Regions from separate parts of the Homo sapiens genome. Here region 1 is linked to region 2. Evidence: fine-mapped expression QTL. A gene starts in region 2. The other region holds a variant in brackets. All regions are shown on one strand. Distances are from middle to middle.

What was found. PIP is the estimated chance that this variant, and not a neighbour inherited with it, causes the effect.
Region 1: its variant is fine-mapped to the expression of CFAP418 in breast (GTEx, PIP 0.99).

The regions. Positions count from the first base shown.
Region 1 is chr8:95,289,262-95,292,175 of GRCh38, reverse strand. All of the region lies in intron 1 of CFAP418-AS1 (CFAP418 antisense RNA 1), which reads right to left. Among named protein-coding and RNA genes, the nearest start is that of TRS-AGA2-5, 21 kb to the right of the region's middle. The variant C/G (reference allele first, on the strand shown) is at 1,315.
Region 2 is chr8:95,267,738-95,270,651 of GRCh38, reverse strand. It overlaps CFAP418 (cilia and flagella associated protein 418), which reads left to right and starts at 1,451. Exons shown (of 6, transcript NM_177965.4): 1 at 1,451-1,617. The coding sequence starts at 1,463. It overlaps CFAP418-AS1 (CFAP418 antisense RNA 1), which reads right to left and starts at 1,816. Exons shown (of 4, transcript NR_038209.1): 1 at 1,762-1,816. It overlaps TRS-AGA2-5 (tRNA-Ser (anticodon AGA) 2-5), which reads left to right and starts at 914; the gene lies at 914-995. RefSeq lists enhancers at 710-789, 826-1,465, 1,420-1,859.

The sequences.
Region 1 (2,914 bases), 22 kb before region 2:
ATCTATGTGGTCATATAGTGCAGAATTTCCTTCTTTATTAAGGCTGAGTAGTATCCCACTGTATATATATACATTTTCTTCATCCGTCTCTCAATGGACACTAAGTTTGTTTCCACCTTTTTTGCTGCAATAAACACTGGAGTGCTACTATCTCTTCAAGATTCTCATTTCAACTGTTTTGGATAAACACCCAGAAGTGGGATTGCTGGATCATATGGTAGTTCTAGTTTTTAGTTTTTGAGGAACCTCCACACTTTCTCTTAGCAGCTACACCATTTTGCATTCCCACCTACAGTGTACAAGATTTCCAATTTGTCCACATCCTCACCAACAGATGTAGTCTTTTGTTTTGTTTTTTGATAATAGCTACCCTAACAGGTATGAGATAATATTTCATTGTGGTTTTGGTTTGCACTACCCTGATGATTAGTGACATTGAGCATTTTTAATATACTTGGCCATTTGTGTGTCTCCTTTAGAGATTAGACCATTATCCTCTATCATACACAAAAATCAACTCAATGTGGGTCAGAGACTTAAATTTATGACCTGAAATTATAAAAACTCCTAGAAGAAAACATAAGGAAGAAGTCAATGATTTCATGAATATGGCACCAAAAGCACAGGCAATGAAAACAAAAATAAGTCAATTACATCAAACTAAAAAGCTTCTGAACAGCAAAGGAGACAAGTAAGAGAGTGAAAAGGCAACCTATGGAATGAGAGAGAATACTTGCAAACCATACATCTGATACAGGGTTAAACTCCAGAATACCTCAGAACCCTCTACAACTGAATTTTTTTTTTAAAGTAACCTGATTTGTTCTTTTTGCTTAGAATTGCTTTGGTTATTACACACATACTTGGTTTTATATAAATTCTAGCACTGTTTTTTTCTAATTCTGTGAAAAAAACACATTGGTAATTTGATAATTGCATTGAATTTATAGATTGGTTTGTGTAGTACACTTATTTTAAAAATATTGGTTCTTTTGAAAAAAAAACTGGGCTAAGAACTTGAATAGACATTTCTCCAGTGACATATTTATAAGATTGGGAAGAGGGAAAAAAAGGAAGAAATTAGTGCTGTAACAAAATATTCACCAGGTATCAGTTTTTTTCTTATGAGCCTTTGCACAGCCTCTATAGGCTGGCCACATCCACAGGGGTTCTGTGCCTGGGAGGCATGGAAAACACTCTAAAACAGTGTCCTGGTAGCCATTTAAAAAAGGGTGGACTTAGAAAACAGCAATAATGAAGTGTGATTCCCCATTACTGCAGCCCTGCCAGGCCCTATAAACCATCTGAGAGCTC[C/G]TAGCACCTGTGGCACTAAGGCCCCAAAGCAAGTGAGGGGAGAAGGGAGTGGCTACCTTTCCTGTTTCAGAGATGTAGAAAGAGGTGAAGGATGATAAAGCCTGCTAGTGCACAGAAAGGAACACTCTCATCACAAGGAAAAGATATAGCCACCTGAAAAGTAAAAGTAATTATTATTATTATTAGTGAGAAATGAAATAATTAGTCTGGGAGCAGAGACCTGGCTATTAAGTATGTGTCTCACGAAACAGTCAAATATGGGCAAAGATCACAAAAAGAACTAGAATGGAGATAAGTGGAGTTATTTAGAAAATGAAAAAATATATATTTTTAAATCATCAGCTACAGTTAAGAATGGCCAAAATCTGAGCGCTTGTTTACAGAGGAAATTGACTGGAAACCCAGAGAGGTGTCCTCGGTCTACTCAGAGTTCTTGTTGGACCCTTCTAAGGAAGATAGAGGTGTTTGCTGTCCTTCATCCCAGGAAGCTGTCCTGAGTAGGGCAAGGCGGCATCACCCAAGCCATATGGAGCTTTCAAAGGAAAGAAGGAGAGGACAGTGAAGGTAAACCAGCTGTTTCTCACTGGGTTAGAAAAACTTCCAGAAAACCACACAGAGCCTTCTAAATGATGGGACATGCTGAACATGCCAAAGAGAAAGGTCCCATTGGGATGGCATTGGAGGGTATTTTCCCCCTTTACTTGTAATGATTCAAACACTGATGGATGCCATGCAAAATTGAGGAAGCAGTGGGGGGAAGGGGGATCTTGATGGAGCTCATGTATGCAACATATGGAACAAGTTATTGAAGAAAGTGCTTCTAACAGAGTTTATGAAAGTTAAGAAGAGGCAGTTATGCTTCTTTTAGAGACAGCAAAGATTAAGGGCGTGGTGAAAAAAATAGCGAAACAGGATTAAGATAAAGCAAAACAGAGGAGAAATATTGGACCAGATGAACTTTCACCTTCCCTAAAATGATTTATGTACTTATGAAGAGCTAGACTGGACTTGATTTCAGGGGGTGAGAGTTGCTGGTGAACCTGCATGTACCCAGTATTTCTGCAGAAATTCTGGACAAATCTACACTTCTACAGGCAAAGCCAACACTGAACATGCATGGTGATGAGGTTCTCTATTTAAATAGGACAAACACTTACTTGAGCACCTCATTCAGAGTAACAAAGAGAGAAGGAAATAAAAAAGGAAACAGCATCTGAATATAAAGAAATCTAAGTAAAGAAGTGGCTTTTTGTAATGCTCCAGTTTTTTTATCTTTGTTCTAGAAAATAATCATTTCTCTCTGTTTCATTTATGACTTATTGGTGTCAGAACTCAAGAGAGGCTCAAATGTGACAAAAGGCCCTGTGAGGACCCAACAAGATCTAACCAGTCTATTTCACAGTGGCTTAGGCCAGAGAGGATTGGGCAGAACAAAAATGGTTAGCATAGTGGTGAGCTAAATGTCAGTGTGTCTGACTAACTGTCACAGGGGAAAGCAGGAGCCAGAATCACCAGGAGATGAAGCGTAAGACTTGGAAACTTTACTGCATTGCAGGTAGTGGATGGGGAGGTTGAGGGAATGCAGACTAGCCAAGTCCAA
Region 2 (2,914 bases):
TATTTATAAATAATAGTAAAAGGTAGTGGAATCACTAGCATATGAATTTTGAGTATCATATTTGCTTTTAACATAATGTAATTGCAAGTTTGCATAATTTAATATTTAATAATAATTGCATTTAACAACTAGCTCCCAAAATCCTTGAAAATTTATCACTGGGTAGGAGTGAGCATGTCCCATTGGCTCCAGCACACCACTACATGTTGCTCTTCAGGGACCTTAAAAGATACTTTGAACAAACAAATCATCTGGATCAAACTATCTCCAGAGTTCCCAAGGGTGCCAACCTCTTTGCTACCCCACTTTAGAAATACCCAAAACACAGGTTAAACTATGCACAGTATTTATTAAGAATGCCATTTACAATACCTTACACTTGTATCACGCTTTACACTTTTCAAAGTAGTGCTTTTATGGCACGGTGGGACTGTCTGACCCTGCAGAGTGAATTTAAATCGCTGGGTAATAGCTTTTTAATGTATAATGGGTGAAAAGATAGTCCTGGGAGCCGTTTGTCAAAGAGAAAGGCGAAGGAGTGGAACTGGCAGCCCCACAAGGAAGTCGGGAAGCTGGTTGGCCCCTACCCGGTTCCTGGTTCTCTCCTGGAAATGGCTCCAACATTGTGCAAGCAAGTGGGTGTGCAATAGTTTTGAGCACGCATCTCTCTCTCTGTCTCTCTCTCTCTCTCTCTCGGATTTAATTAGAATTTCCGTTTTTTCCAACAAAGAGTTGGACGGGATACGTTCTAAGACTTTTACAAACTGTAAAATGATGAGCGAGGTAACATTCAAATATGCTCTTAACAGAACAGCTCAGTAATGGTTTCCTCCACATCAAAACGTGCCTATTGCTGCAGCAGACGCTTATGCAGAGTCTACATGCACTCTCACCGCAAAAATTCACACAGCCAGTAGTCGTGGCCGAGTGGTTAAGGCGATGGACTAGAAATCCATTGGGGTCTCCCCGCGCAGGTTCGAATCCTGCCGACTACGGGAATGTCAGCTTTTTGCCGTCAACACTTACTTTTTGTGTTTTAGAGCGTTCTGCTCAAACCTTCCACAGATTTCAGGAATTTACAAACGGCTGAAACACAACAGGGACCCAAACGGGAGAGGAGAGAATGAAGGGGCGAGAATGCGTGCTTGTGGTTACAACGTGGGCCCGGGAGGGGGAGACGGGAGGAACCACGCCAGACATGCTGAAAGGAAGAAACGCAAAGCATCGCGAGTCACACAGACACACTGCAGAGACAGCTCCGAACTCTGTCCCTGCATACGCCCGCCCCTCACGAACCCACCGCGTTCTCTGCCGCGAGCCCTCGTGGGCGCCGGGTTGCCACGGGAAGCGGTGCGCATGCGCGGGGACGCCTAACGGGGCAGGAGCCCGCCAGGTCCCCTCGTTACTCCTGGAAACCACCGGAGCCTTGGCGATTGGAGGGGAAAAGGCCAGGCGATTCAAGATGGCGGAGGACCTGGACGAGCTCTTGGATGAAGTCGAGTCCAAGTTTTGCACACCTGACCTTCTAAGACGGGGTATGGTCGAGCAGCCCAAAGGCTGCGGCGGCGGCACCCACAGTAGCGACCGGAACCAAGCCAAGGCGAAAGAGACGCTCAGGTTAACCGGGCGGGAGGGGTGGACTGTTCTGGTAAAGCCCTGCTCCAGGCCCTAGAGCTGCCCCTCCGCCGCCCAACCCAAAAGAAACGTGCCCGCGACCTCCAGCCCCTCCTTGCATCAGGGTTCAGACCCTCAGCGCCCTACCCTCCGCGGCAGCGCATTCGTCGACCCTCTTCGCGGATTCTGGCACCTCTTCACTCAGCGCAGACTCCGCCCCCCGGCATGCCCCAGAGGGCTGGCCCCCGCCCCGCCCCGCCCCGCCCCGCCCCGCCCCGCCCCGCCCGCAGAGCCCGCAGTCCGCGCCAGTCTCCTTCATCCTGTTTCTGGCTGCCAGCGCGTAGGAGGTTCTAGTCGGGGACCGGGATACCCCTCAGGCGCCCCGTTCTTAACCCCGAGAGGGCTGTGCTGACCTCGGCCGCATTTTGCCTCTGTGTGGCCAAGCGGTTCTCATCTCCCTGTGAGGTGCCCTGTTAGACAGCCTCATCCCATTGCCTCAGACCCCACTCCCCAGGTCAATCCTATTTGTCTTTAGCTCAGTTTTGTTGTTTTGTTTGTTTTTTGAGATGGAGTCTCGCTCTGTCGCCCAGGTTGGAGTGCAGTGGCACGATCGTAGCTCACTGCAGCCTCCAACTCCCGGGTTCAAAGATCCTCCCACCTCGGCCTACCCTAGCTGGGATTACAGGCACGAGCCTGTAATCTGGGATTACGTAAACTGGGATTACAGGCACGAGCCCGGTTAATTTGTATTTTTTGTAGAGACAGTCTCACTGTGTTGGCCAGGCTGGTCTTGAACTCCTGAGTTCAAGCTGTCCTCCCGCCTCTGCCTCCCCTAACTGCTAGGATTACAGTTGCGAGCCATCGCACCTGACTCAGTTTGTTTTATTTTTTTAACTCAGGGAGTTAAGATGAGATTAAATTCATTACAAAAGGGTTAATTATTGTGAACATTAAACCGTCTACCTTCCTTCTCTCCATGGCCCCCTAGTTAAGGGTGCCAGACATACATATGGAAATTTAAGGACATTTCTTAAGGTATTTTGGTTTTTTATCTAAAAACTACCTTTCAAATTTACCAGTCGTTTTTCCTCCATGTAATTATTAAATAATAGGATTTCCTTCACTTCCTCATTTCCCCCACAACCCCTCAAAAAAAAAAAACAAAATGTTTGCATAAGAATATTGACCTTCAGTAACTCTTGCTAGAATCTTTTGGAAATTGCCTCTTGCCTAGAATATTTTGGAAACGCTTGTGAAATTACACGGAGGCAACTTTGGATCAATCTAAGAACGTCATCTC